Linked DNA regions of Homo sapiens: regions 1 and 3 are each reported to be linked to region 2. The links are microRNA targets in miRTarBase. Many come from high-throughput screens and were not tested one by one. Region 2 holds a microRNA gene; each other region holds the end of a gene's coding sequence.
What was found. Region 2 holds the annotated microRNA hsa-miR-505-3p (CGUCAACACUUGCUGGUUUCCU, at 6,034-6,055, shown strand). A microRNA usually pairs through its seed, bases 2 to 8, with sites in the 3' UTR of a target mRNA and lowers its output. Matches are read on the target gene's strand: a 7mer-m8 pairs with bases 2 to 8, a 7mer-A1 pairs with bases 2 to 7 and ends in A, and an 8mer does both.

Region 1: miRTarBase lists NABP2 as a target of hsa-miR-505-3p. The part of its 3' UTR that is shown has no 7-base or 8-base seed match.
Region 3: the mRNA of FBXO33 is a reported target of hsa-miR-505-3p. The part of its 3' UTR that is shown has no 7-base or 8-base seed match.

What each region holds. Positions count from the first base shown.
Region 1 is chr12:56,227,880-56,238,209 of GRCh38, forward strand. It overlaps NABP2 (nucleic acid binding protein 2), which reads left to right. Exons shown (of 7, transcript NM_024068.4): 7 at 1,135-1,975. The coding sequence ends at 1,334. SLC39A5 (solute carrier family 39 member 5) reads left to right here and starts at 2,172. Exons shown (of 13, transcript NM_173596.3): 1 at 2,172-2,243; 2 at 2,361-2,416; 3 at 2,952-2,994; 4 at 3,325-3,682; 5 at 4,810-4,993; 6 at 6,945-7,107; 7 at 7,278-7,447; 8 at 7,681-7,821; 9 at 8,517-8,613; 10 at 8,703-8,867; 11 at 9,052-9,132; 12 at 9,271-9,461; 13 at 9,709-9,967. The coding sequence starts at 3,396. The coding sequence ends at 9,852. ANKRD52 (ankyrin repeat domain 52) reads right to left here. Exons shown (of 28, transcript NM_173595.4): 28 at 9,928-10,330. RefSeq lists a silencer at 9,026-9,244.
Region 2 is chrX:139,919,549-139,930,214 of GRCh38, reverse strand. It overlaps MIR505 (microRNA 505), which reads left to right and starts at 5,984; the gene lies at 5,984-6,067. All of the region lies in intron 1 of ATP11C (ATPase phospholipid transporting 11C (ATP11C blood group)), which reads left to right.
Region 3 is chr14:39,391,687-39,402,352 of GRCh38, forward strand. It overlaps FBXO33 (F-box protein 33), which reads right to left. Exons shown (of 4, transcript NM_203301.4): 3 at 9,490-10,175; 4 at 5,998-8,101. The coding sequence ends at 7,830. Among named protein-coding and RNA genes, the nearest start is that of FBXO33, 35 kb to the right of the region's middle.

The DNA.
Region 1 (10,330 bases), not on the chromosome of region 2:
GGGTAAGATTACGTGTAATAATCTTTTCACTAGCTGGGCGCAGTGGCTCGCGCCTGTAATCCCAGCACTTTGGGAGGCCGAGGTGGGTGGATCACCTGAGGCTGGGAGTTCAAGACCAGCCTGACCAACATGGAGAAACCCCATCTCTACTAAAAATACAAAATTAGCCAGGCGTGGTGGCTCATGCCTATAATCCCAGCTACTCAGGAGGCTGAGGCAGAAGAATTGCTTGAACCTGGGAGGCGGAGGTTGTAGTGAGCTGGGATCGCTCCATTGCACTCCAGCCTGGGCAACAAGAGCGAAACTCCAACTCAAAAAAATAAATAAATAAAAAATAATAATAATCTTTTCACTGATGGTTATCTATATTTTCTAAAATGAACATTATCATTATCGTACACTCATACACACCTTTTTTTTAAGTGCCTCATATTTTAACGCAGAGACTTCAGGCCCTTCCCCTTGCCATGCTTCTCCAGTTTTATAATCACTTTTGGTGAAGGGGCCTTTTTTTTTTTTTTAATTGAGAAGGAGTCTCACACTGTCACCCGGGCTGGAGTGCAATGGTGCAATCTCGGCTCACTGCAACCTCTGCCTCCCAGGTTTAGGCGACCCTCCTGCCTCAGCCTCCTGAGTATCTGGGATTACAGGCGCCTGCCACCACACCTAGCTAATTTTTTGTATTTTTAGTAGAGACGGGGTTTCACTATGTTGGCCAGGCTGGTCTCGAATGCCTGACCTCGTGATCCACCCGCGTCAGCCTCCCACCGTACTGAGATTACAGGTGTGAGCCACCACGCCTGGCCCAGTAAAGGGGCATTTTTGTCAGAGGTCCCTGAGCCTAGAACTAAACAGCTAATTCTAGGTCTGATTCCCAATAATAGTGAGATAACTACAAGAGAAAAATACCGTACCGAGGTTCATGTAGCAACTTCCTAAATGATCGTGTAAGTCTTCTCTGGAGCTCCATTCATACTCGCAGCCCACAGTCTTTTGCATTTGGTCCAGTTGGCATTAAGATGCAGTTGTGCATGGTGAAGACTGTGCCACTCTTTGGGGCATGGAGACAGGCCTTGGGATGGACCCCTCTCCTATGTTAACTAATTCCTTTGTTTCTTCTCCTCCCACAATTAGCCTCTGAGAACCAGAATGGGAATGGACTGAGTGCCCCACCAGGTCCCGGTGGTGGCCCACATCCCCCTCATACTCCCTCCCACCCACCCAGCACCCGAATCACTCGAAGCCAGCCCAACCACACACCTGCAGGCCCGCCTGGCCCTTCCAGCAACCCTGTTAGTAACGGCAAAGAAACCCGGAGGAGCAGCAAGAGATAGCATGACATTCTTTCTTCCTGCCACCAACCACATCCCAAGTGTCCCCTGGAGAGCAAGATAGCCTTCCACTGATTGGCTGGTGTAGCAGTATTTTAGCCACTGAACTTCAGTGGAGGGTGGTGAGCAGTGTCCTTATCCACCCTAATCTCATACTCCCTCATTGTCCAGCTGAACTACCTGTCCCCTGGGAGTCAGGACCCTCTGCCTGCTCTCTTTCCTCTTTAGAAATGGCAGTTACTGGCTGGGCGCAGTGGCTCACGCTTGTAATCCCAGCACTTTGGGAAGCCGAGGTGGGCGGATCACCTGAGGTCGGGAGTTCAAGACCAGCCTGACCAACATGGAGAAACCCCGTGTCTACTAAAAATACAGAATTAGCCAGGCATGGTGGCGTATGCCTGTAATCCCAGCTACTTAGGAGGCTGAGGCAGGAGAATCTCTTGAAACCGGGAGGCGGAGGTTGAGGTGAGCCGAAATTGCACCATTGCACTCCAGCCTGGGCAATAAGAGCGAAACTCCATCTCAAAAAAAAAAGAAAGAAAGAAAGAAAGAAAGAAAGAAATGGCAGTTACCATCTGTTTCTTCTGTGTGAGACATGGGAGTCTAACTGAAGTCTCTCCTTCCTAATAAATGTTACCACTCTACTCTGTGTTGGACTCCTTTGCTTTCTGTGGGAAAAGGAAGAGGTTAGCAACTAGGCATTTGGGAAGGTGGGGTGTCCCTAGAAGGTGGAAGGAAAATAGGTTACAGGTAAGGAGGCCCAGGCAAAGCAGACCTGCCCCTTTAAGGTAGTGTCCCTCCCCTACCCCCTCCCTGCAGGTGACCCTTGCCCGCCTGCCTGCCTGCCCCCCCAGCTGGAACCAAGAAGGTTGTGTCCCCCTTCCTCTGGGTGTCCTTGTCTCCTGCTATCAGGTAATGCCAACCTCAACCCCCTGGACCAGTCACCCCGATCAGACTTTGCTTGCCTGATTTTAGGCCAGGTCAGACATCAGAGGAGAGCCCAGATCCTTGTTTCCTCTCCCCCCGCAGGGCTTCCCCTTTCTTGGTCATCGATCCCTAGAGCTCTGGCTCTTTCTCTTCTTGGGGTGAGAAACTGCTAAGAACAGTTTATTTCCCATGCATGCATCTGGGCTTGCCACTGATCTGCCTTTTCCCCCCTCCTCCCCAGGTTAGGGACACCTGGGTCCAACCTTCCCAAGGAATATGGGGATGGGGGTTGGAGATGAAGTTTAGTGCTAGACTGTAAGGTAGGTGGGGTGGAAGTACATGAGGGAAAGGGCTAAAATGGTACTAATGGTGTTAAGGATAGGGTGAATTATTTAAGAGGAAAAAGACTAGGCCCAGGTTCTCCTTAGCCATGTGGCTTTCCCAGGGCAGAGGGTGGCCCCTCCCTACCCAGGGGCCCAGCAGAGACTGACTTTTGATCCCTACCCCAGAGACCAGTGAACCATTAACTCCTCTCTTATGTGAGCCTTCACACACTGGCCCCACCCCTGACCCCGCCCCAAGGCAGGTGGGCTAGGAGGGGGTGCATGTCCATCTCAGCCTTCTATGTGACGTGGCCTCCGATCCACCTGGACACCTGGAGGCTAAGCCTGGATTCCCCCTTCCCTGACTCAGGAACTGCTTAACGTCTACAGCAAGGCCTAATAGGGGACCTGAGGTGACAGCTCTTATGTTGCCAGTAGGGGTGAGGCCCTGGGGATTGAGGGGGGATAAAGAGGTGGGGCAAAGTTGAGGGGTGGGGTTTAGGGGACAAGGAATGGACGGTCAGCTCTGGATGAAGTATGAGGAGAGCTCTGACTCAGGGAGGTGCTCCAGGAACCAGCAAACAAGAGGCTGCTCCCGCAGGAGGCAGTGTGAAGGGAGAAAGAAGGCTGCAGTAGGGGCTGCTGCTGGACTCGGTGGGGAGCAGGTGCAAGGAGCTCTGGCTCCCCCATGGACCTGAGCTGGAGAGCAGAGCGCAGCTCCAGCCCATTCCTCATTCTTCCAGGGCACAGTCCTCAGGATGTTTCGGGGAGAATAGGAGCCAGAACCTGAGCCCCTAAGCTATTCCCCTCACCAATGATGGGGTCCCCAGTGAGTCATCTGCTGGCCGGCTTCTGTGTGTGGGTCGTCTTGGGCTGGGTAGGGGGCTCAGTCCCCAACCTGGGCCCTGCTGAGCAGGAGCAGAACCATTACCTGGCCCAGCTGTTTGGCCTGTACGGCGAGAATGGGACGCTGACTGCAGGGGGCTTGGCGCGGCTTCTCCACAGCCTGGGGCTAGGCCGAGTTCAGGGGCTTCGCCTGGGACAGCATGGGCCTCTGACTGGACGGGCTGCATCCCCAGCTGCAGACAATTCCACACACAGGTACTGACCCCTTCCTCCACTCCACAGGGCCACATCTCCCAGGTCCTCTCAGTGCTTGCCCCCAGTTGCCTCGTTCTGGCTTCCTCACGAGATCCCTGGAGTTACAAATTCTTCAGAACCGAGCTCCTTGGTATCTCTTCAAAACCTCTCATGCTTCTATTGCCTTCTCTCTCTTTTCTTGAGACTGGGGGTCTCGCTTTGTCACCCAGGCTAAAGTGCAGTGACACATTCACGGCTCACTGCAACCTCTGCTTCCCAGGCTGAAGCCATCCTCCCACCTCAGCCTCCTGAGCAGCTGGGACCATAGGCACACACCACCACAGCCGGCTAATTTTAAAAATTTTTTACAGAGACAAGGGTTTCGCTGTGTTGCCCAGGCTGGTCTCAAACTCCTGGGCTCAGCTCAGCGATCTGCCTGCCTCAGCTTCCCAAAGTGCTGGGACTACAGATGTGAACTACCACCCTAGCCCTCCGTTGCCTTCTAATTCTCTCCTCCTCCAAATCTCTAAGCCCTTAAATTTCTTGCTCTTAGTATCACTGTTCAGTGTCTCTGGGCTGATTTGGCTCCAAATTCGTAGACTTCTTTTTTCTTTTCTTTTCTTTTTTTTTTTTTTTTTTTTTTGAGACAGAGTCTCGCTCTGTCGCCCAGGCTGGAGTGCAGTGGTGTGATCTTGGCTCACTGTAACCTCTGCCTCCCCGGTTCAAGCGATTCTCCTGCCTCGGCCTCCTGAGTAGCTGGGATTACAGGCACACACCACCACGCCGGGCTAATTTTTGCAATTTTAGTAGAGACGGGGTTTCACCATTTTGGTCAGGCTGGTCTCGAACTTCCAACCTCAGGTGATCCACCCACCTCAGCCTCCCAAAGTGCTGGGATTACAGGCGTGAGCCACCGTGCCCAGCCATTCGTAGCCCTTTTGGTTGTCGTCCTTTTTTTTCTGTCCCCCCCAGTGGCAGAAAATGGACAACTCACAGATCTTCCTAAGAATGACATTCCATGGTTTCTGGGTCCCAGGATCTCCAGTCAGTGGCTAGTCCCCCCATTCCCCCTAAAATCCCTGGGAGCCTCTCAAAGCGGGTTGATAGAGAACACAAGGGAGGCTGACTTGCTGTCTCATCCATTCCAGGCCACAGAACCCTGAGCTGAGTGTGGATGTCTGGGCAGGGATGCCTCTGGGTCCCTCAGGGTGGGGTGACCTGGAAGAGTCAAAGGCCCCTCACCTACCCCGTGGGCCAGCCCCCTCGGGCCTGGACCTCCTTCACAGGCTTCTGTTGCTGGACCACTCATTGGCTGACCACCTGAATGAGGATGTGAGTCTGACGGTCTCTAGAGGGGAAGGAGCCATGGGATTAGATGGCCTGAAATGTTTAAATAATCAGTAGTTTTTTGTTTTGTTTTGTTTTTAAATCCCAACGTGGACCAAGCGTGGTGGCTCACGCCTGTAATCCCAACACTTTGGGAGGCCGAGGTGGGTGGATCACCTGAGGTCAGGAGTTCGAGACCAGCCTGGCCAACATGGTGAAACCCCATCTCTACTAAAAAATACAAAAATTAGCCGGGTGTGGTAACAGGTGTGTGTAATCCTAGCTACTCAGGAGGCTGAGGTGAGAAAATTGCTTGAACTTGGGAGGCAGAGGTTGCAGTGAGCCAAGATGGCACCATTTGCACTCCAGCCTGGGCAACAAGAGGGAGACTCTGTCTCAAAAAAAAAAAAAAAAAAAAAAAAAAAAAAAAAAAAATAGCTGGGCGTGGTGGCACATGCCTATAATCCCAGTTACTCGGAAGGCTGAGGCAGGAAAATCACTTGAACCCAGGAGGCGGAGATTGCAGTCAGCCGAGATTGCACCACTGCACTCCAGCCTGGGTAACACAGCGAGACTCTGTCTCAAAAATGAAAATAAAAAAAATAAAAAAATAAAAAAAAAATATCTCACTGTGGTCTTAGGGGATGTTATTTCAATAGTGAACTATGTTCCCTCTGGGATCAGAGCAGGTGAGCCCATATCCAGAGCTCCAAGACTCAGTTTAGGGGAATAGATGGCAAAGCAGAGAATCTAGAGAAGCAGCCCAGGGTAGGATCTGGATGGTCACCTGGAGAGGAGACCTGCAGGGAATGGATGGCTGTCTTCATCCAGAAAGACAGAGAATATATTCCACTTACACCAGAGGGCAGACAAAGCTGCCTAACCCTGATGGAGGTCCAGTGAGTGCCCATTGCAGGAAGCATTCAAGCTGAGGCTGGATGAACATCGACAGGGCTGTTGAGAGGGAGATTAGATGGCATTTCAGGGTCTTTTCCCTTTTAAGATTCTGGCATGGAGAGCTCTAGTTTTCCAACCAGCTTCATTTATCAAATCAACAAAATGATTGAAATGATCAGAGTTTGCAGGGAAGATGATGACAATGCTCACTAGCACCCAGTTTGCATCAAATTGAATACCTGCATTGGACTGAATATTCACTAATAATACACATTGATTATAAGTACCCTTGGCCCTAGTCCCCAAGGTACCTGCCAGTAGGAGCAAAGGGGACCCTGGGAGAGACCCAGGAGTCTATGCAATGGAAGGACAGGTGTTAAATATATATATATATATTTTTTTGAGGTAGAGTCTGACTCTGTCACCCAGGCTGGAGTGCAATGGCGTGATCTTGGCTCACTGCAACCTCCACCTCCTGGGTTAAAGCAATTCTCCTGCCTCAGCCTCCCGAGTAGCTGGGATTATAGGTGTTCACTACTATCCCCAGCTAATTTTTTTTTTTTTTTTTTGAGATGGAGTCTCACTCTGTCGCCCAGGCTGGAGTGCACTGGTGCAATCTCGGCTCACTGCAACCTCTGCCTCCTGGGTTCAAGCGATTCTCCTGTCTCAGCCTCCTGAGTAGCTGGGATCACAGGTGCACGCCACCATGCCCAGCTAATTTTTTGTATTTTAGTAGAGACAGGGTTTCACCATGTTGCCCAGGCTGGTCTCGAACTCCTGAGCTCAGGCAATCTACCCACCTCAGCCTCCCAAAGTGCTGGGATTACAGGCGTGAGCCACCGCACCCGGCTCATCCCCAGCTAATTTTTGTATTTTTAGTAGAGACAGGGTTTCACTATGTTGGCCAGGTTGGTCTCAAACTCCTGACCTCAGATGATACACCCGCCTGGGCCTCTCAAGGGCTGGGATTATAGGTGTGAGCCACTACACCTGGCCAGGTGTTAAAGATCTGAGTCATAGTTCCTGGTGATTCTCCAATGTATGACCCTCAATTCTCCAGTGTCTGAACGGCTCCCAGCTGCTGGTCAATTTTGGCTTGAGCCCCGCTGCTCCTCTGACCCCTCGTCAGTTTGCTCTGCTGTGCCCAGCCCTGCTTTATCAGATCGACAGCCGCGTCTGCATCGGCGCTCCGGCCCCTGCACCCCCAGGGGATCTACTATCTGGTCAGCAAGTAGGAGTGGGTGGGGGACACCCTGAATCCTGGAAGTGGGGCCCATGCCAAAAAGGAGGCTCACTGGGGTCCTGCCTCTCCTTGTAGTGTTCTCTCTGCTCCACCTTACGTGTGGGACCCTCCTCTTGCCCTGACCTAACTTCAGCCCCTGATTCTCCCCAGCCCTGCTTCAGAGTGCCCTGGCAGTCCTGTTGCTCAGCCTCCCTTCTCCCCTATCCCTGCTGCTGCTGCGGCTCCTGGGACCTCGTCTACTACGGCCCTTGCTGGGCTTCCTGGGGGCCCTGGCGGTGGGCACTCTTTGTGGGGATGCACTGCTACATCTGCTACCGCATGTATGTGAAGCCCCTTCCTTGTACCCCTGGCCTCCATGGATCTAAGGTGTCCCCAGCCATAGGACATCCCCTCCGCCTTTCCATCAGCTCCCATATCCTACTCCCAGATCCTGGCTTCAGCCCACAGCTGCCTTCTAGTAGAGCATATGAGCGAAGGCTTGCCACAATCCATGCAAGGGGATGTTGTTGGGTATAGGGGCTTCCAGAGTCTGCCCTGACCTTCTCTCTGTCAGGCACAAGAAGGGCGGCACGCAGGACCTGGCGGACTACCAGAGAAGGACCTGGGCCCGGGGCTGTCAGTGCTCGGAGGCCTCTTCCTGCTCTTTGTGCTGGAGAACATGCTGGGGCTTTTGCGGCACCGAGGGCTCAGGCCAGTGAGTGATACCCTTTTCTCCTCCTTCTGCTGAGACCAGAGTCCCAGTCAAGAACTGGGCCAGGCCGGGCGCGGTGGCTCACGCCTGTAATCCCAGCACTTTGGGAGCCCAAGGCGGGCAGATCACAAGGTTAGGAGTTCGAGTCCAGCCTGACCAACATGGTGAAACCCTGTCTCTACTAAAAATACAAAAATTAGCTGGGCGTGGTGGTGCGTGTCTGTAATCCCAGCTACTCAGGAGGCTGAGGCAGGAGAATCGCTTGACTTGGGAGGTGGAGGTTGCAGCGAGCTAAGATGGCACCACTGCACTCCAGCCCAGGTGACAGAGCGAGACTCCATCTCAAAAACAACAACAACAACAACAAAACTGGGCCAAAAAGCCAAGAGATGAGGAGCAGTGTGTGCTCCTGGATCTCTGACATTTGCCTGGTGTGCAGGACCTATCGGCTAACAGGGAGTGGGTAGGGGCTCCTTAAGCACAGACCCAGGACTTCTGGCCAAATGGCATCCTATTCTGAGCTCAAGTCAACAAGAAACAGAGGGGAGGTGCCAACTTGGGAAGAAGGTAGAGGCCAAAGAACATCCCAGGTGCCAGAGGTGGAACCAGGTGTTCATCTTCCCAGCTTGTGGCCTGGCTTCCCCTTAGTCCCTGGCTCTGCTGCCTCCTCCACCAGGAGGGATGCCCTCCTATTTCAGAGATGCTGCAGGCGAAAACGAAGGAATCTCGAAACACGCAACTTGGATCCGGAGAATGGCAGTGGGATGGCCCTTCAGCCCCTACAGGCAGCTCCAGGTGACTAGAGGAGAAAATTTGAAGAGTAGGTTCCAAGCTCACAGTCCTTACTTGCAGCCACCAACACTGTCCTGTGCTTCTTCCCGCAGAGCCAGGGGCTCAGGGCCAGAGGGAGAAGAACAGCCAGCACCCACCAGCTCTGGCCCCTCCTGGGCACCAAGGCCACAGTCATGGGCACCAGGGTGGCACTGATATCACGTGGATGGTCCTCCTGGGAGATGGTCTACACAACCTCACTGATGGGCTGGCCATAGGTGTGAGGGGTGGGAACGGAGGGAAGCAGGTCCGAGGGGAGGCCAGGGCTCCTAGTTATCAGCTGGGGCTAGGAGAGGGCCGTCAGGAAGATGGGGAGAGGACGGGAGGACCACGGAACACAGGAACCTGCTTCTGAGGAGACTTTTCTTCTGGACTGACAACTTCCGACCCTGCTGGCCCCAGGTGCTGCCTTCTCTGATGGCTTCTCCAGCGGCCTCAGTACCACCTTAGCGGTCTTCTGCCATGAGCTGCCCCACGAACTGGGTAGGAATGGCAGGAGCAGGGTGGGGTGGACTCCAGAAAGGAGATAGCTCCAAGGGGTAGAGCTTGGAGGCTGGTGGGTGGCATGGATGAGGGGCACCCCAGCTTACTCCCTCCCATCCTGTCCTCTGTCTCCAATAGGTGACTTTGCCATGCTGCTCCAGTCAGGGCTGTCCTTTCGGCGGCTGCTGCTGCTGAGCCTCGTGTCTGGAGCCCTGGGATTGGGGGGTGCAGTCCTGGGGGTGGGGCTCAGCCTGGGCCCTGTCCCCCTCACTCCCTGGGTGTTTGGGGTCACTGCTGGGGTCTTCCTCTATGTGGCCCTTGTGGACATGGTGAGAGATGTCGGGTAGAGCAGAGAAATCAAGGGCAGTGGGGAGGCGGGAGTGGAGAGGGAGGTAGCAGTCCCTCCGCCTCTACCATTAGCTCCTGGAAGGGCGTCAGACCATAGGCCCGCAAAAGTCTGAGAAACAAGGGACTAAGGTGTTTGGGTGGGGGCTGCTGATGCTTTCTGACACCATTCCTCTGGAGTTGAGAGGTCAGGGGCAAGGCCAGAATCCTGACATCCTCTTTTTCTTTCAGCTACCAGCCCTGCTTCGTCCTCCGGAGCCCCTGCCTACGCCCCATGTGCTCCTGCAGGGGCTGGGGCTGCTGCTGGGGGGCGGCCTCATGCTTGCCATAACCCTGCTGGAGGAGCGGCTACTGCCCGTGACCACTGAGGGCTGATGGGGCCAGTGGAAAGGGGTCGGGTTGCCCTTCCTTCCCCCCAACCACAGGAATGGAGGCGGGACACAGGGCCAGTAGGAGCAATAGGATTTTAATAAACAGAACCCATCCCAAAGCCATGACTACGACAGTTGTACTTGCACCAAAACAGCATAGAAAACCAGAGTGTGGTGGGAGGACCCGAAGCCGGTTGGGGGAGGATGTGAGTAGGGGCCTGGAGGGTGCAGGGTCATTAATCTGCGGGGAGAACATTGTGCTTTAGCCCAGGGAGGGGAGGGGTGGGGCAAATGCACCGAGGTCCCCACTTTTTCCTGCTGCCCTCGGCACCCTGGGGATGCAGGCATCTGGGCACATCTGCCCCTTATTGCTGCCCACCAGCGTTAAACGCCCCCGATCCCAACACTAGCACCACAGGTGGTTCCGGGGCAGGGAGAGGCAGGAATGGGAAAATTGCTTAGAGAAAGATTCCACTAGAATC
Region 2 (10,666 bases):
CAGTTGTTGAGGTGCCAGCCTGCAGGTTTGAGGCTAGTACTTTGCATCCCCGACCAAGATCTCAGCAGAGAATCACTTTTGCTAATACTGAAATGAGCTTTGACCTTATTGTTGCAGCTGGAATATTCAGCTGTTCACATTTTCCTGCGCAGCCATGACTGTGGTAAGTATCAGGAATTTGTACCAGTGCGGTAAGCTGGAAGGTTCTTAGGAGTTGTGTCTGAGCCCTAGGCCCAGGGCAAGGAATTAATCTGCATACCGTTGGACTGAATGTGAAAATTACTATCAAATAATCATTGCTAAAAAACGGCTTCAAAATTTGGGGGAGGGGGGCAATTTTTCCATCTCTTAGATCAGTAAACCATGCGCTGTTCTCCTCTTTTGCCTGACAAATTCTTTGAGGGGTACTTCCATTTGAATTACTAGAAGACTAGAATTAAAGATTTGAGTGGAACTTTGAGACTTTCACAGCAGTATAGATGTAGTCAAGGTTGTGAGTTGTCTTATGATTGTTTTAATATTTTAGAAATAGAGCTATGAATTCCTTTCAAAATGAGTTGTTTTTTTAGTGTACCTGTACGTGTCTGATATTGGTTTTGATTGTGAAATAAATTACAGTGGTGTTGATTGTAGTTGTTGGTTATTGAAAACTAGACTACATATTAGAGAAGTGCTTCCTTTATATTTTAAACCTGACGTGGAAGAATCCCTTAGGATTCTTACAAGCATCATCTTCTATAGCTCAGTTGTGTTTGCTGAATCATTTTTGAAATGCCATTTATTTTTCGAGTTTTCCAATTTCAAGCTAAAAGAAAATAGTGATTCATTGTATTTTTTTAAATACATGGTCTTGACTTCTTTGCCATTAATAACTGTGTTCCTTTCTTTCTGATGAATTATGACTTTCCTTTTGACAGTTTTGAGGTGGAAAGAAATTGGTGGATTTGGTGTATAGCATTTTAGGGTTGAGGCATGTAGAGGGTGTCCTAAAGGATTTAAGAGTTGGATGTCTCTGAGTGCAATAAAAGCACCACCTGTTCTCAAGTCAACATCTCCATAAATACAGTAAATAAGTAATAATAACTCTGTCTGTACAATTTATTTTCTTCAAAGGCATATTTAATCAGAAGTCTGGACTAGTTGAGATTTAAGGGTCATGGACTTTTATGTTATCCTGTCTTGTTTTATTCTTAATGCAATTCCTAGTGACTATAGTAACGTGTTCTCTTGGGTTTAAAGATTTATTGAAAGTCTAAAAACAATTCCCCCCTCTTTTTGGCTTATGAAATTATTTTATACTAAAGATTCAAAATAAGAGATTTCTTGATAAAGTAGGTTGGGGGCTTGGTCAAGAGGATGCTGTCAGTTTAGCTTGTCAGTGATAGTTAACAGGTATGCATTTCTAGACCTTTGATACATGAAAGCTTAATTGTGAGTGTGAAATACTGGAGTACATTTAAATCTCTGATTCTAGAAGCCCTTAAACTGCTTTGGTTTCATAAAGCATGTAGCATATAATCATAATATCACACAGAAGATGCCCAGGACTAGGAAGAAATTAGACTGCATAAGGAAGAATGGAAATTTAAAATAAGACTAAAAAATACAAAATAAGAATTAATGAAATAGGTAGCTAATTTATTGCTTTGAGTCCAAGGCAAGGCTAGTCTAATGAAGCAATATATGGAGGCAATTAAGAAAATAGTTCAGGTAATTGCTTTGTTTTTTCCCCAGGAGCAAGAAGGTTTTTAGTTTCCCCTTTAAACTATCAGAGTAATTAAACATTTTTTTTTTTCTGTTTCACTTTACTAATAATCCTGGCCTGACATTGACGAGCGGGAAAATATTGATTTTATTTTACTGTGTTTAGAAATATATCTGTATGTATGTATTGCAATATTTTTACATTTGCACAACTATTACAAATGGTCTGTGTATCTCGGCTCCCACATGGCTGTTCATAGAGGTCTAGGTTTAGCAGTTGAACTTGACCATACTTAAAAGCAACTTTTTTTTTTTAAATCATATTGTGTTATAATTGCCTTTTAACTTGTATGGCTCCCTAGTCTTTCTCAACATGGAGAGAATTGGCACTGATGCCCTAGGACATGCATTGTTAGTAATAAATTAACATTTTCCTGCGCAGCTGGAGTGAAGGAACCCTAATTGAGAAAGGCTGTCCTAGACAGGGACAGTTCACAGTGTGTTCTTAGCTCCTAGCACAGTGCCTGGTCCCTAGTAGGTGTTCAGTAAAATATTTTTTGAAAGAACAACTTTTGTATGTATCCCATAAATAATAACCTTTACTTACAGATAGTGATTATTGTAAACCCGCTCTTATGCAGAATGAGCAAAGAATGAGTTCTTGTTAGTTGGGGTATACCGTATACATTACTAGTATTCTAAGAATTAGAATAAATACATCTAATGCCGAAAGCTATACTGACCATAGTATAATCTTTTTTTTTTTCCTTTTTTTTGAGATTTATTATGGGAATTGGATCATGCAGTTACAGAGGCTGAGAAGTCCCAGGATCTGCCATCTGCATGAGCCCGGCCACAAAATATCCCCTTCTTTTATTTATTTTTATTTTTATTGTTATTTTTTTTGAGACAGAGTCTTACTCTTGTCATCCAGGCTGGAGTGCAATGGCACGATCTTGGCTCACTGCAACCTCCGCCTCACGAGTTCAAGCGATTCTCCTGCCTCAGCCCCCCTAGTAGCTGGGATTACAGGCGCCTGCCACCACGCCTGGCTAATTTTTTGTATTTTTTAGTAGAAACGGGGTTTCACCATGTTGGCCAGGCTAGTCTCGAGCTCTTGACCTCAGGCGATTTCCCTACCTCGGCCTCCCAAAGTGCTGGAATTACAGGCAAGAGCCAGCATGCCTGGCCTCTTTCTTAGATGATTAAGGCATTGTATGGTTTTGCAGAGCAATTATCATTCAGCAAATATTCACTGAGCACCTACTATGTGCTGGGCACTGCAGTCAATCCTGGGGTCGTAGATGAGCAAGACAGACAAGGTTCCTGTCTTCCTGAGCTGTAATTATCATTACATACACAACTATAGATATAGAGGGCATGGTAACTGCATTGCATTGAATACATTTGTGACATACCATGAAATTTGATCTTTGTGAATAAGTTACTATTACATACTTGTCATTTTTCTTTCTACTAAAAATAGATTGTACAATATCAGTTATTTTCTGGTTGTTTGGATGTCAGTTAAAAAGGAGTTTCTTGCATTTGTCTCCTTTCATCTGACCTACGCATGGCAAACTGCTCTTTTGCAAATAGATGCTAGGCTGACCCCACGCAAGGTGGGAAACTTATTTAGAAATGAACCACTGTAACTTGAAATAAATCTTTACACAAGTGAAAGCAGGTTTTGTCTTCTTTTTTCCTGATCTACCTTTTAGTGACTAAGCAACATAAAACTCTGAATGTGTCCTGAATACTTTCTGTAAGTGTTTACTGTTTGTTCCTTTTGTTTATGCTTATTGCTAATAATTCAGCCATTTAGTGAGTAATATTGAGTGCCTATATACCAGGTAGTTTCCAGTGTTCCTAATTAACTTTTAGCTGAATTGAGATTTGGGCAGGTGAAGCTGGCCATTTTTATATTGATGCAACTGTTCAAAAGAGCTTGTTTTTTCAAAAAGCTGCCAGTTTACCACCTGCTGAGCAGTGGGTTCTAGGAGGTAAAGGATGGCCAGTGGCCCCTGAAAGAACCATAACTAACCTTGCTGTGTCTGCATGATGTGCAAAGAACTAGCCCACTGAGTGAAATCAAATACTGGTTTGTTGAGTGATGGAAAAAATCAAGGCTCATTGCTTGTCTAACATGGTTATTCAGTTCTCTCAAAGAGGGTGAATGCATGGGATATAAAAAAAAAATACTATTTTTTTCTTCAAGGTGGTGGAATTTCCTGTACATCTGTAGTGCTTTATACAGATGAACCTTTTACATCTGGAACCCTCGAGACTGGGGGAGTTTTTCTGGTTAGGTGGAGGGAGGTTCTGGGCTTCCACAAATGAATTAGGTGCTGGCTCTCGAGTTTATTTCCTTTCACTTAACATTTACCTTCTTGGCCTGGTATAAGGGTAGATTAGCGGTGATCGTAAAACAAAACATACTGGCACAACTGCAGCATATGTTAACACTGCTGCAGCTTAATGATGAATGAGTGCTCAGCACTGCAGATATGGGCACAGGATGCCCTATGCCCACACATTGGCAGACAGCCCCTCAATTATTGCAGTGTATGGACGGATTACTGGGTCGGCTGACTTCTTGATAATAGAAGATGTGATTTATAAATGATAATGGACCGTGGATTTCCAGATTTAGAAGGTTAACCTGTATTTGTGAAGTAGAAATCATTGATTTCTTGTGCCATATGTATTTAATGGAATATGGGAGGATTGGTGATGTTGATGATATTGCTGTTCAAGCAGATATCATCATTTGTTTTTTAGACGTCTCTATTATATGTTGTCATAAAGTATTAATGTGGCAATGTTTTCCTAGTCCCTTTCTCTTTACCAAGGTATTCTTGGAAAAATCAGAAGTGTTCTTGAAAATGATCTTGCAGTTAGCACAGCATCAGGTAAACAGTAGATGTTCAATTAATACTTGTTTAATTGTTTTGAGCTGAATTGGTAACACAGTCTGAGTCAGTAATAACAGATGAAGAATGATCAGTTTAGGAAGCAGCCACCAAGAAGCTTATGCATTTCAGACTGGGCTACAAAATTAGCCAGGAGTGGTAGCACAGGCCTGTAATCCCAGCTACTTGAGAGGCTGAGGCGGGAGAATCACTTGAACCTGGGAGGCAGAGGTTGCACTGAGCCGAGATCGTGCCATTGCACTCCAGCCTGGGCAACAAGAGCAAAACTCCATCTCAAATAATAATAATCCTGTATGCTTACTATAAATACAGATTCCTGGGCCTTGAACTTACTGAATCCAAGTCTTGGGTGACAGACTCCAAGAAACTGTTTTTAACAAGCATTCCAAGTGGTTCTTAGGTTCACTAAAATTTGAGAACAGCAATATATAATATAGTAAACACGGAAATATTTATTTTCTGGGCACACTCTCTGTTCACCTTTTTGAACTTCAGTTTCTTCATCGATAGAATGGGAATAATAATACCTATTTCACAAGACTGTTGAAAAAAACGTTTGGTAGACTATTCAACACTATACCAATTGTGACAGAGGTCCTCAAAACCGGCCTAGGTTTGTTGATTCACTGGCAGAACTCAGTACATAGAAACGCTTGCGGATGTGATTTATTATAGCAAAAGGATACAGAGCAAAGTCAGTAACGGGAAAAGGCTCATTGGGGCCAAGTCTGGAGGAAACCATGTGCAAGCTTCCAGTCCTCTTTCACTGAAATCACACAGGTCATGCTTAATTCCTCTAGCAAATGAGTTTTGACAACTTGTGTGAAATGTCTACTAGGGAAGCTTATTAGAGATTCAGTACCCAGGGTTTTTAGTGGGAGCTGGTCACACAGGCACCCTCCACCTGGTACACAGCAAAATTCCAGACCCCAAGGAGGAAAGCAGGTATTCAGTGTAAACCCTATTGTTTACACAGCTTAAGCAGAGTGAGCCACTCTTATCAGGGTGATGGAAACCCTCCCAAAATCCAAGTCCCCAGACACCAGCCAAGGACCAACCTTGCAAACAGGCCTTACTAAGAATAGCAGTGTCAGGCCTGCTATGTTAACTCTTTCCATCACGCAAATATTGTGAAACACTGGTATTTTTTCAGTGAAAGGAAATGACTTGTCCAAGATCATTAAGCTAATCAGCAGTACAGCTGAGACAGACTCCCAGCAATCACATCTTTTCTTTGCTGCCCATAGCCATGCTTCTAGATTATGGGTCATTCCTTTTCATACTGTCATTGAAAGCACTTACTGTTTGTCACTTGAAGCAGAAGAGCAGCCTGCCGGTGGTAAATTGATGCACCCAGTGGGGGAGCCAGGAAGTATTGATGTTTCTGCCAGTTTAGCGTCAACACTTGCTGGTTTCCTCTCTGGAGCATCGCCAAGTTCGTGGATTTTCATTTTTCCTGACTTTTGGACTTTTGTTACTGCTCCCATTCATTTGCTCATAGTCCTAATACTCATTTGCATCATCACTTCATCCCATTCTATACCTTTTGGGTAACACAATTTCCAAATGGTGGGAATACTGCAGTATTTTGTCAAAGAAGACTATATAGGAAAAAAAAAATTCTGAGCAATGAATTTTATGGCAATATTTACAAATATTGGTTTATATCCTGGATTGTCTTTTGAGTTTTATAGTCATGGAAAACCCTAGGGATATCTCTGGTTATTTGGAGTTTCAGCCATTTTTACTGTTATAAAGGAAAATTAACAAATTTGTTATGATTGGAGCAAGGAATAAGGAAATCATACTGGATGGTGCAGTAATCCCACATATCGACAGGGAGTAGAAGCCAGGAGGGAATTGCCACAAGTAAGTAACAGCTGGGTAGAGCAGATTATGTAAGCTACACCTGTTGTGTAAGCAGTGGGGACGTTCTTTAAGCTTCACAATTAATGTATTTTGCAGTAATAAGGATTAAGGGATCTATAGTATAGTGTACAATTTATTCTGGCTTCTTTTCTGAAAACATTCATGTGAATCACAGCTTTCTTGGAACACTCATCCCCTATTTGGTGCTGTAGAGGTGTGTAAGGTACAGCCCTGCTCACCAGTAGCCTGCAGTTTGGTAGAAGAGAGAGAAGACCAGCACACAGGACCATCCTCCACACAAGGCCAGTAGGTCACCAGAGCCATCCTTTTGAAGGACATACACAGTAAGTGCAGTAGGCATTCAGAAGGAGGCACTGGCTCTCTGGCTTCATTTCTTGGGGAGAGCTTTATGGAGGAAGTAGCCTGTCAACTGGGCCTCTGGGGACCCAAAGGGCTGAAGGTTCTGAGATTTTAGGGATGGGCAGTCTCATTACAGGAGGAGGCAATTACCTGAGCAATGGTGCAGGGTCATTGTTGTACTTAAAGCATGGGAACCAGTCAATTTAGAGAACATACATGCCAACCCCAAATGAGTTTGAGCTGTTATAAAAAAAAGTATAACAGGTGGGGCTCAGTGGCTCACGCCTGTAATCCCAGCACTTTGGGAGGCTGAGGCAGGTGGATCATTTGAGGTCAGGAGTTCAAAACCAGGCTGGCCAACATGGTGAAACCCCATCTCTACTAAAAACAAAAATTAGCCAGGTGTGATGGAGAGCACCTGTAATCCCAGCTACTCGGGAGGCTGAGGCTGGAGAACTGCTTGAGCCAGGGAGGTGGAGGTTGCAGTGAGCAGAGATGGCACCACTGCACTCCAGCCTGAGTAATAGAGCGAGACTCTGCCTCAAAAAAACAAAACAAAACAAATAAAAAGTATAACATAGATTCAGTGGCTTATGCACAACAGAAATTTATTTCTCACAATCCTGGAACTTGGAAGTCCAAGATCAGGATGCCAGCATGGTTGGGTACTGGTGAGGGGGCTTCACGTCGCAGACTGGTGACTTATTGTATCTTCACATGGCAGAAAAAGAGTGAAATGAGCTCCCTAGGGCACTAATCCCATTTATGAGGGCTCCACCTTCATGGCCTGATCACCTGTCAGATGCCTCACCTCCTAGTACTGTCACCTTGGAAGTTAGGATTTCCACATAAGAATTTTAGGGGAACACAAACATCCTGTCCATGACACAGCAGAAACACCAAAACCTCGATCTTCAATGCCTTACGTTTGCTGTAGTAATTTTGATTTTAAAAAAGGAGATGCTAAAAACAGGTGGCTTTAGGTCTCCACAACAATAGCTATAGGAATCTTCCCATACATAGATGCTCTTTTCTGAAACCTATGACTCCAGTAAATTTATGTCATTTAAAAAAAATGCATATATATATATATATATATATATATATATATATATATATATATATTTAGAGAAGGAGAGAGAGAGAGAGACAGTCTTGCTCTGTTGCCCAGGCTGGAGTGCAGTGGCACAATCTCGGCTCACTGCAACCTCTGCCTCCTGGGTTCAAGTGATTCTCCTGCCTCAGCCTCCTGAGTAGCTGAGACTACAGGCGTGTGCCACCACACCTGGCTAATTTTTGTATTTTTAGGAGAGACAGGGTTTCACCATGTTGGCCAGGCTGGTCTTGAACTCCTGACCTCAAGTGATCCACCTGACTCAGCCTCCCAAAGTGCTGGGATTACTGGCGTGAGCTGCCATGCCCGGCCTTATTTGGTGCAGAGACAGTAAGGCAGAGACCAGGATGAAATATATATTTGGGGTAATATATCATGACACTACTTCATATATTATTATAGGACTGCTTACTTAGTTACCCTGCTTAAATTATGGGTACACATTTCTGGTAACTTTCACTACACATGGGAGACAGGATGGCAGTTCATTTTCTTGAGTACTAGTGGTCATTTATTTAAAAAGCTGGAGATCAGGCCTTTTTTCAGGAGCACATTCCTTACCAACACATTTATAGTTCACTGCTATTAGATAAGAAAGCTTTTGATAGACTTTCAGATCTGACTGCATCATTCGGACTTACCAGAACATGAATTGCATCTCATTCCCTCTGTATTAGTCTATTTTCATACTGCTTTAAAGAACTGCCTGAGATTGGGTAATTTATAAAGGAAAGAGGTTTAATGGACTCACAGTTCCACATGGCTGGGGAGGCCTCAGGAAACTTCCAATCATGGCAGAAGGCAATTAGGACGCAAGACACCCTCACAAGGTGGCAGGAAGGAGAAGTGCCGAGTGAAGGGGGGAAGAGGCCCTTATGAAACCGTCAGATCTCGTGAGACTCACTCACTATCACGAGAACATGGGGAAAACCACCCCCATGATTCAGTTGCCTCCACCTGGTCTCTCCCTTGACAGGTGGGTATTATGGGGATTATAATTCAAGATGAGATTTGGGTGGGGACACATATCACCCTCATAACCAGTTCATCACGACACCATGCTTAGTCAGTGCCACTTTTCTTTATCATCATGACTGCCACCCTCGTCTAAGTCATTAGCATCTCTCCACTTTCATATTTGTTCCTCCTCCAGTTTTCCCGTTCAGTAAATGGCACCATCCCCCTCCTAGTAGCTCAAGCTAAAAACCTAGCAGTCATACTTAATACTAACCTTTCCCTTCATCACATTTGTCAGAGAATCCAGTAGGTTCTATTTCTGAAAATGCTGTCACATCCATCCACCTTTCTTCATGCCCACACCTACCACCATTCAAGTTTAAGCTACTGCTGTCATTTACCTGGACCTTTGCAATTGATTATTTTATTATCCACCTTTGCCCTCTCCTATCTGTCTTCCACACAGCTCCAGGGGGATCTTTTACAGACGCACACCAGGAGCACTTCATTGACTTTCGACTGATTTCTGGTTAAATACTTTGCTGGTATTGCTCTCTCTCTTTCACTTTTTTTCATTCACTTTTAAAAACTGAGATAATTCACCTAACATAAAATTCACCACTTTAAAGTATACACTTAAGTGGATTTAAATTTCCTATGCTGTGTAACTATCACAGCTATCTAATTCCAGCACATTTCCACTACCTCAAAAAGAAACCCCATCCGTTAGCTCTTAGTCCCAGTCCTCTATCCTTCAGCCCTTGGCAACCACCCATCTACTTTCTTATCTCTGGATTGCCAGTGGAATCATACAATATGTGTTCCTTTGTGACTGAATTCTTTGGTGTAGCATAGTAATATTTTCAAGATTTGTTCATGTTGTAGCATGTATCAGTATCAGTACTTAATTCTTTTTTTTTTTTTTTTGAGGTGGAGTCTGTCACCCAGGCTGGAGTGCAGTGGTATGATCTCGGCTCACTGCAACCTGTGCCTCCTGGGTTCAAGCGATTCTCATGCCTCAGCCTCCAAAGTAGCTTGGACTACAGGCACGCACCACCACACTCGACTAATTTTTGTATTTTTAGTAGAGACGGGGTTTTGCTATGTTGGCTAGGCTGGTCTTGAACTGACCTCAGGTCATCCGCCCGGCTCGGCCTCCCAAAGTGCTGGGATTATAGGCGTGAGCCACCGCGCCCGGACTCATTCCTTTTGAAGGCAGAGAATACTCCGTTTTATGGAGAGAGCACATTTTATTTATCTGTTCATCAGCTGATGGACATTTGGGTTGTTCGCACTTTTTGACTCTTGTGAAAAATGTTTCTTCGAACATTTTTGTCCTTTCTTTTTTATTTTTTTATTGAGACAGAGTCTCACTCTGTTGCCCAGGCTGGAGTGCAGTGGCGCCATCATGGCACATTGCAGCCTCCGCCTCCCAGGTTCAAGCAATTCTCCTGCCTCAGCCTCCTGAGTAGCTGGGACAACAGGCGTGCACCACCACACCCGGCTATTTTTGTATTTTTAGTAGATATGGGGTTTCACCATATTGGCCAGGCTTGTCTCGAACTCTTGGCCTTAGGTCATCCGCCCACCTTGGCCTCCCAAAGTGCCGGAATTACAGGTGTGAGCCACTGTGCCTGGCACATTTTTTTGCTTTTTAAAATGAATATGTTTTTACTTGAGTATATATTAGTGGAATTGCTGGGTCATATGGTAATTGTATGTTTAAACT
Region 3 (10,666 bases), not on the chromosome of region 2:
TGGCGCGTGCCTGTAATCCCAGCTACTCTGGAGGCTGAGGAACGAGAATCACTTGAACCCGGGAGGTGGAGGTTGCAGTGAGCTGAGATCGTGCCACTGTAGTCTAGCCTGGCGACAGAGTGAGACTGTCTCAAAAAAAAATAAAAAACTAAAACTAAAACCACTTGAAAATCTTTAATAATGTCATCTCAGTTGAGTAGTTCTTAAGCTTTCAGAAATAATTACAACTATAGTGCAGTGCCTATTCTAATTTTAGAGCTATCTTGTCTAACAATTGGCTCATCACATACCAACTATGTATTCTTTTTTTTTTTTTTTTTGAGACGGAGTCTCGCTCTGTCGCCAGGCTGGTGGCAGTGCCACGATCTTGGCTCACTGCAACCTCTGCCTCCCGGGTTCAACCGATTCTCCTGCCTCAGCCTCCCGAGTAGCTGGGGCTACAGGCTTGTGCCACCATGCCCAGCTAATTTTTCTATTTTTAGTAGAGATGGGGGTTTCACCATGTTGACCAGGATGGTCTCGATCTCTTGACCTTGTGATCCGCCCGCCTCAGCCTCCCAAAGTGCTGAGATTACAGGCATGAGCCACTGCACCTGGCCAATTATGTATTATTAAAAATTAGAATAAAATTATACGCATAGATTAGGTTATATAGTACACACACACACTTTGTATGTTAGATGTGTTAGGCATAAATTCATACACCTACATGATGATTATTCTGTTGCTTTGTGATTCCATAGATTTGGTGATACTGATAAATATACCAAGGGCAGTTAATGCACTTCAAGAAATACAGCAAGAATACTGGTACATGGAGAATATGGATGGAGCTTTAATATCTGTAAATTTTACAAACTAAGTGGAAAAATAGAATTATCTACCTAATAGTAAGGTAATCGTAGTCTTTAGGATCAGCAGGATAAAAGTCATGTAATGTAGGAGTTCTATCTTCTGGGTTTAAATTCTACCCAAACTCTTACTGGTTTTACAACTTAGACACAATTGTTAATTTTTCTATGCCTATTTCCTTATATGTGAAATGAAATGATATCTACTCCAGGGTTGCTGTGAGAATTAAATGACAAAATACTTGTTTGTCAAATGCTCAAAACAGTGCTTTGCACACAGTAAATATTTAATACATATAAGTTATGGTATTTCTTAGTCTATTTATCAACATTGTTTCTCAGAGAATTTACTTAAGTGATTTTTTTTTTTTTTTTGCAGTGGTGCGATCTCGGCTCACTGCAACCTCCCCCTGCTGGGTTCAAGCTTCTCCTGCCTCATCCTCCTGAGTAGCTGGGATTACAGTTGCCCGCCACCACGCCCGACTAATTTTTGTACTTTTAGTAGAGATGAGGTTTTGCCATGTTGGCCAGGCTGGCCTCCAACTCCTGACCTCAGGTGATCCGCCTGCCTCGGCCTCCCAAAGTGCTGGGATTATAGGCTGAGCCACCACGCCCGGCCTTAAGTGTGTATTTTTTAGCTAAAGGCTAGTCTTTTAAATATATAGTATTATTTTAGCCATCTTCAGTAGAAATATTTCCAAAATGTATTAAATGCTCCATTAATTTATGCCAATATTCTGAACACAGTGTAATTTTCATATTGATTCAAGTTCATTACAAATACTTACCATTGCCCTGTAGTTCAGGTTTGTTATAGGGGTGTTGAAGTCTGTTTCAAACTCCAAAATGGCCTAAGACTGATTATGCTCTTGCTTTCACATGTGTAAGCTTGCATGCCTTTCACAGTCACCCCCTTCCTTTCCCTTTCTAACCCACTGTAGACTGAGAAACCTGATGAACAGGTTTATTAGAATTATGCTGAAAATAAGACAAAGTGAGCTAGCAGGAATTGGAAATGGCTCTTCTGAGTGTGACACCTTTACCCATTAGTCAGGGACTAATCCAGCTCCACGAGTCTTTTATACTTATTTCTGGATCCTTGGCTACACTTCAAATAGCTGAGGTTGTTGGATATAATGTCCACATTAAATAAGTATTAATCTAATGACAATAGTGCTTTAAACTGAAATATGGTAGAGTCAATTACAGTGCCATTTTGCAGCTTTACTGAGGTGTGATTGGCAAAACTTGCATATATTTAAGGTACACAATGTGTTTTCATATATATATATACTGAAATGATTACAATACTCAAGCTAATTAAAATATCCATCACTTCACATAGTTACCATTTTTGGTGTGGTGAGAACACCTGAGATCTACTCTCTTAGCAAATTTCAAATATACATTATTAACAGTAGTCACCATACTGTATATTAAATCTCCAGAATTTTATAATTGAAAGTTTGTACCCTTTGACCAGTATCTCCCCTTTTCCCCCACACAGTGACATATTTTGAAAAATCTATTCAGAACTTTCCTACAAACAACTAGGTCTTAAGCTCTCAGTAGATCTTTGAGCCTCTTTCAAGTTACTGTGATTCAGTAATGCATGAAAGGATAGAAAGCAATACTCTGTCCTCCTGCCTTGGTCACTGCTATGGTTTGAATGTGTCCCCTCCAAAATTCACAGTTTAGTCCCCAATACAACAGAGTTGGAAAGTGGGGTCTTATGGGAGAAGTTTATTTAGGTCATGAGGGCTTCACCCTCATGAATGTATTATTGCCCTTATAAAAAGTGCTTACAAAAGTAGATTAGCTCTCTTTCTGCCATGTGAGATTACACTGTTGCTTCGGAGGATGTTGCATTCAAGGTGCCATCTTGGAGGTGGAGATAGGGCCCTTACCTGACACCAAACCTGTTGGTGTCTTTATCTTGGGCCTCCCAGCCTCCAGAACTGTGAGAAATCAATTATTAATATTCTTTCTAAATTACCCAGTTTCAGATCTTCTGTAATAGCACAAAATGGACTACAACAGTTGACTTTAGACTCAGCATTATGAAACAAGTCAGTCCATGAACATTCATTTGTTTGTAACTTGGATCAGTAAATTACAAATTATTTTTTAAAATAGGAAATAACAAAATAATATAATGAATGCCCCATTACAGATAAAATTACCTTCATGCCCATCCACACTGATCCTTGTCCTCATGCCTGCCTCATAGGTAAGCACTCTTGTGAAGAGGGTGTGAATGTTTTTTGTTTTTCATTATGAGAGAGTATATATTGAAGGATTCATTCAGAGCTAAAAGGCAAATAAACTGATAACTGACAATATACAAGCTTAAGGAGGAAAATGAATGACAAAATTTCTAGTGATCAAGAGTGAGTGAATTGCATTTTAAAAACAGTTGGTAAGTAGGCTGGGTGCAGTAGCTCATGCGTGTAATGCCAGCACTTTGGGAGGCCAAGGTGGGAGGATCGCATGAGGTCAGGAGTTCAAGACCAGCCTGGCCAACATGATGAAACCCCAACTCTACTAAAAAAAATACAAAAATTAGCTGGGCTTGGTGGCATAGGCCTGTAGTCCCAGCTACTTGGTAGGCCCAGGAGATGGAAGGTGCAGTGAGCTGAGATCGCACCACTGCACTCCAGCCTGGGTGACAGAGTGAGACTCTGTCCAAAAAAAAAAAAAAAAAAAAAAGATGGTAAGTACTAAATTACTATAGCATTTAGATTCCATTATACATATTTTAAGAAGTCATGTATGTAATTTACTTTAAACTGCTGATGTTTATATCTGCTAAGATTATGACCAATGTTACATGTTTAACTTAAAAATATGCAAAGGGGTACATTTTTAGGGGCTAGGAAAACAAGTTAGAAAACATGGGATTAGAGAATACATCTAAAAGTGAAAAATCTGGGTTACAGGGCACAGGCAACTTCAACTTTACAAGATATTGCAAGTTTGCTTTCCAAAATGGATATATCAGTTCAAGTTCCACCTGTGTTTCCTCTTCCTTGCCAACACATGGTATATCTTGCCCTTTTAAAAAAATCTTTCAGAAAGGATGATTCAAGTATCCTGAAAACTTACTCATAATACATCATCCGTTTCTTTCCACAACCAGCAAACCAAATTAATTAGTATACTGTACCAGGGGTGATACCCTGCAAGGACACCTAATGAGTCCTGGGGTGGCTGGAGCCTGGGTTGGTTGCCTTCTGATGCTTTCAGGCTCTTCTGAGCAGTGGGAGTGGAGCTGATTCTGAAAGTAGGCCCTGGACAGAGAGCAAACTCAGATACTCACTATTCCTAGCCAGATGAGTCACTGTCCATCACAGAAAAGGGTGGGGGGGGGGGGGGGGGGGGGCGTCTACAAAGCTGTGAAAGAAATACGTTCCAGGTGTCCAAAGAGCAGGAAGGAAGCCCAAGTGTGAGGCCCCCAGGTGTGGCTAGTTGGATTTGAAAGGGTTGGGAGCTGGAGGTGGGAGGAGGGCTCCCTGCAGCCTCTAATTGCCTTCACATATATATAAAGTTGGTGGCTGTTTACTCTTCAGTGGTGTCTCACCTAGCAGTAGGATTATGTAAGGGAGATTACAAATTAGAGCATCATGATTTTAAAATAATTGTAATAAACATCAATTTGAATTTGAACTTAACTCACAACATTATTTCCCAAAGAAGGAAGCGTTAAATTTCTTAGTTTCAACTGCATAAATTAACGAATGGTTATTTTTAAAAAAGACCTAAAAATTATTACCTGTTTGTGGGGTGTTTCTCATTGGTGACAGTATTAAAACATTTTAATCAAATGTCAATTAAATCAATTAAAACATCTGGCAAGATTTTATTTGAAAGTTCCATACAAATTCAGTATTTTTCCTCAAATCTTCTACATTTTTTCATCAATTATATAATTTAAAAAAAGTAATTTTTTTCTCTAATTCTTTCTGGTTTATACCAGTATGCTGTACAATATTTTCTATGTGTGCTACAACATGACAAAGGTTGGGAAACATTGATACAATGTGGTATGGTCCCTGGGTATTATTCACATCTGCTGTGTTACTCCATTAGCACTGTGTTATGTTACTGGCTTCATAAGGATCCAATATGACTCATGCTCTAAGTCCCAAGCAAGTTTCCCCATCTTTGTGTTCAATTTCTGCATCTTTGTGGTGGGGAAATGGAAAGTAATTTTAGATAGATATGTAAATTTCATATAGTTTAATAAGCTATGTTTTGAAAATATTTAATACCTTGGTTTAAAGATGATCTTGTGTATCTGTGAGCTACTGAGCTAACAGCAATGGAAAATTTCAATGAAGAATCGGAGTTTTAGCTAGCCAAGACCAATCCTTCATTTTAGAGATGAGGAAACCAAAGCTGAAAGAGGAGTCTGTGCTCAAGTAGAGCCAGAGCTTAGACTAGAAAACAGATGTCAAGCCTCCCAAATTTAGAGCTTTACTACAATAACCTTAACTTGCATGCTATTCATATTAGTAGACTTTCCTTTTTCGTACATTTTGGGTACGTCTTAAATATATACTTAAACATGTTGATTCATTCAAAGGACTCAGATGTGTCCAGGAAAGTAACGAAGTGGTAAGTAAAAAGTATAAGGACAATTATTTGTGAACACCAGATTATTCCAAGATAAAGCAGTGCCTGGAAGAGTCAATGTCTGGAATGATAAGGAAGGGAAGATGGAAGGAAGAAAAGAAGTCCTTTTGTTTCCTATGAATAAGAGCTGTGAGTCTCAACAACCAAGAACAGAGATCAGAATACCAAAATAAATAAAGGAATATAGGGGTTTATGAAGAATTTAATATTGGCATATCTAAGTATTTTTGCATTTGGTATAGGAATCTTCTTTTAAAAAAGCAGCCCCTCTAGTCTATAAATTAAGTTTTACCATATTGATAATGTAATGTATTCTAGGTGCATAATATACTGAGATTTTGTGCTAAGAAATCCAGTGTTTGTTTGCTTTTAAGCTTGTATTTTGTCAAAGTGAATTTCTGTAAAAAAATCTTCCAAACTATTCAGCTAAGACTTTTTATAATGTATCTCAAATTTAAGCTTTGCTGCACCAGAATACAACCAGAATACTAACACATTATTATACACAATATAAGGATTATTGCAGTTTATTTAACACTAAAAGTAGTCATGCTTCATATACAATAAAATATATTACAATGATCATTTTTAATGCTTTATTCATTGATTAAAAGAATATACATTTAACATAAACCATACAACATCAGTCATCAGGTCAAACATTCAGCTGGTTTCCTTACAGTTTCTGTCAGGAGTTATTTTATCTGATCACATTTATAAGATAAAATCTCACCACATCTGGCATTTACACACACTGTGCCAGTGGATTCACACTACTGATGTACATATAAAATCCGCATGGTATGTGCTCACTGGAGACAAAACAGTGCACACCTGTCAAAAGGTCATTTTAATATAAGATGGTAAAACCATTTGTAAAACACATATAAACTTTTTTCCATAAATAGAATCATATCTGGACATCTGTTGCATAAATTGTGTTTCCAAAGCTTACAATAGAGCAGCCAGGTCTCAGCACTGCTGGGCACCCAGGTTGGCTACTTACTTTATTATTGCAGACTGTCCTTTAACATTAAATGCACAACATTCGTACCACTTAAAACTGGGGTCAGGTGGAAGTCTCACAGAGACCACGTCTGTACCGCGGTTGCCCTGAAACAGTTAATAGGCTTTTAAAGCCTCTCAGATATAACAAGGTTTTAAAACATACTTCATGGAATGTTCTTCATGTATCATAGCAGCTCATACCTGTGATAGAACAAGCTTTCAGTTTTTCCTTTCTTTCCTTTACATTCACTATTCACAGTGAAACAGGTGCATGTTTTTTTTTTCTTTTTTTTTTTTTTTTGTTTTGTTTTTTCAGAGTTCTGAGGTTGCTGACTGAGCCACAGCACAGCTGTGTACCACAGGTCGAAATTCGACCTTAAATATTACAATCTAGCAGTATCTGGCTGGCCAGAGTGGGCCGGCCCCTGCCAGCATGTGGGCACTTCTTCATTAAGTCTATTCTTTGGCAGCTGACACGCGTGCTGACAGAGAAAAATCCAGTGACTTGTTGCTAGGGATTTCACGACTAATGTTTTTGCAAGCATGTGTATTTACAACTCTGTGTTTTTATTTCCTTTAGGAGATTTTACTCTGAAATACAGTTTCTTTCTTCCCCCACTATTTGAAATCTGGGCTAAATGAATGTGTAATGTAATTGATGAATAAAATTATGTCAGATATAGTTAAAAAATCCAACAATTTCAGTATTCGTGTTTACGTAAATGCATTTTTTTTAAAAGGATTAAGCAATGTTCTAACCTAGTACTATACAAAATTCAAAATGGTAACTGGTGATATCAACTATTAGATATGTAATGAAAGTTAAAGTCTTGGCTTTTCTGTTACAGATAATTCATTTGGGATATTATTTATCTTCCATTTGAAATCAAAATTAATGAAATGCTATCAGAATGCATGGATGCAGTGCATTGCATATAAATCTACCAGGCTATGGATATATATCTATATATGTATAAAAATATTTTGGCTCCTGAGCTCTGAACTCTGACACACAAAGAATAAAAACGTCAAAAAGGCAGAGTAACTCAGTGAAAAATAAAGTTAGCCAGCAACCTCAGACAATCTTCGGCTGTATATCCTTAAGGTTTGGTAACAAGTCCATTAACCGTGAAAGCCCTATACATTGTCACTTTGAACTTCTAAACCAATACCCGACTACGTTCTTTGATCAAGAAGTAGAATATACATATATAATTCTATAAAGCTAATACTGATTAAACACAGCACAAAAGGATTAATTCACACTACTGAAAAAAAAACATAATAGGACCCTACTTGCATATGTAACCACAGGAATTCTACATTAAAAAAAAGCTAAATGTCTTCACTGAAGCTTTGCATCTCTCTGTAAAAATGACGATTTGGTTCAGTGAAGACACTGAGTGATTCGATGTCCATGACTGCATGCCAAGGTTGACCCAGGCCCAGGGATACCTGCTCAATAAGGTTATGCACTGGATCTACATCCTGGTCGGCCAGTTCACCTTGGTCAAAATCAATGCTTTCTTCGGTGACTTCAAGCACTTTCAGATCAGAGCCCCGAAGACGAGCAATGGCAATGAGGTTGTGTGCCCACACCGTGTAACCTGAAAAATAAACAAAAGACAACACTGTAATTTCCTTGCATTTCCTTTTCTCTTTGGTAAGTCTGTCTTTTCCTCATTCAAAGCTTCTAGAGAAGCTTCAAATTTGTATCTCACTTACCGTTTTGGTCTTTTTCCTTTAGAAATATATTGAAATTGGAAAAGGAAACATGGTTGTATAGCCCAGAAAAAAAAAGGCTAGAAGTTGTGTTCAAGAGTTACCGCTATAGGTGGTGAATTGGCAGGTGATCTAATCCTTTATGACACTACTTCATTCAGTAAAATAGACATTTAAAGTATATACAAATAAATTTTATAGCTTTGGGTAAAGATGTACCATAAGGATGAAATTTTTAGTTCATATATGCATGTATCTGTTAACCACACGTGGTAAATGTATTTTTCATTTGTGAAAAATCATCTCCTATAATGCTTTGCGAAGTTATGTAGTGACACTTTAAAGGTAAACTGTTAATTGTCAGTAGCAAATACGTAAATTATAAAACAATCATGTGAATGATATGCACCAACTTCAGAATAATAACTACTTCTGGGAAGGAATAAAGAGGAATGAATACGGGGAGCTTTAGCATAAAGAAGAAAAAGGCTTTAAAAAGACTGGCTTAAATTAACTTTTAAATAACCTGATATGTCTTTAGCCCATTGTGTTTAGCACTTTCAGTATTGATCTAGTCTTTTCTGCTACCTCTGATGACTGGCATAAAGCAAGACTTGAAAAGCAAGGCATACATTCCCAAATACAAATGCACACTAAAAAAAAAATAATGAAACAGTGCTAGTAGGATAGCTAATAAGAGAGTTTAAGACATTCTTATAGACTACTTTGTAATTATCTTACAAGTATCCGAAAAGGAAGTAAATTTATTTGTCAGAATACCAACTCTAGATCCAAATGAGAACAGGTCACATTAAAATGAAAGAAGCATATCAATGGAACCATCGTTAAAAAAATTATATACATTAATACTTTGATACCAAGAATCTAAAAGATGAGGTAGTGAGCATGAAAGAAATCATACATTCTCTTCCCCCGCACTATGTTTTAAGGGGTCGTGTGATTAGAGGAAATATATCTACCACAGGTATGTGTGCTTTCTTAGCTAAATTAATTTCACTGATTTTTTATGAAATACTGCCATTCACATGATGGACAAAAAAGTAACAGGGAAGCTGGAGCAGAACACTTGGGTTTGAATATGATTTTCCTTTTGTAAGTGATATATCTTGCAAACTTTAAAAAGCATAAGAATCTGTATATCAACTTGATACAAGATTTCTTGATACTATAAAGGTCAGTGCTATCTCTTTACTGGCAGAAAATGTTTTCGGTCTAATTCCAGTATCAGATTACAATGAACAAGATCACCTACCATGAATTGCCAGAAGAGAGAGCTTTGTGCACCTCCATGCTAATAAAACCAACGGATCTTCATTTCGGTTGTCACTAAGATCTGGAAAACCAGATGTGTCAATCACATCATTCATTAAAATAAAATGAGTGAGGAACTTGTCATATTGCCTGGATATAAGATCAACAATAGCCCCTGAAACACAAGTGATATAGCTATCAAAATGAATCCTCTCTAGTGGTATACTGGGTTTCAGAATCTTTAACATATCTTCACTCTTGATATCAAAAGCCATTATATAGACCCGAAAGCTGGTGCTCTTTCGTGACAGGGCTTTCCAATGCTCATCATTTGGCATGTTGTCCAGAGACTTGTGCATTACAGAAACATTGTGAACCAGAAGAGACAGTCGTTGCAAAGGCACATGGTTGCTATCAGTTAAGACTCTTGCCATCTCAGCTGTAAAGTCACAAAAATCCAAGGCAAGTGAGTGCAGATTCACAAATCGCTCCAGTTCAACTGCAGTAATAAGAGTGCTGTTACCAGGAATATTATTGTCCAGTAAACTGAGGTGCTCCATGGTGTTGGCAACAGCATTAGAGAGAGATGACAGTGATGTTGGGGTTACTATTTCCAGCATAAACCCACAGGACAGCCATTTCAGTTGCCTACTATTACTCAGGATTTCTTCAAACAGTTGCTGAATTCTATAAGGAAAACACATGCCACAGTGATCCCATTAACATTTAGTTCTAATCTTTTAACACTGACTTTTGAAAATAGGCAATGAAAAGCATGCAATTTTGAGATCTATTTTTCCTCATTAGGTAATTTCGATTCAACCCACAGTAAATACCATTAAAATTCACATTAAAATATAATGAATAAGGTATATTAAACATAAAGATCTATTAAACACGTAGAAATATGTTCCTCATCCAAGAAAAGCACCACTTATACCCGTTTAGTAGAAAAGTAGGATAACATACAATTTATGTTATAGCAAAGGCAAGTAGAGGAATAATTTTAAATAGCAATAATTATCCACTAAGTTACTTGATTTTTCTTAAAGATTTATGAGATGGAATGGCAGATGCTGATCACTGTATTTCACCATTAAAACATTTCCAGGACCTATGTTCCTTTTAGGAAAAAAATCATTACTCTTCTGTTTGTATCTCATAATTTCTTAGGAAAA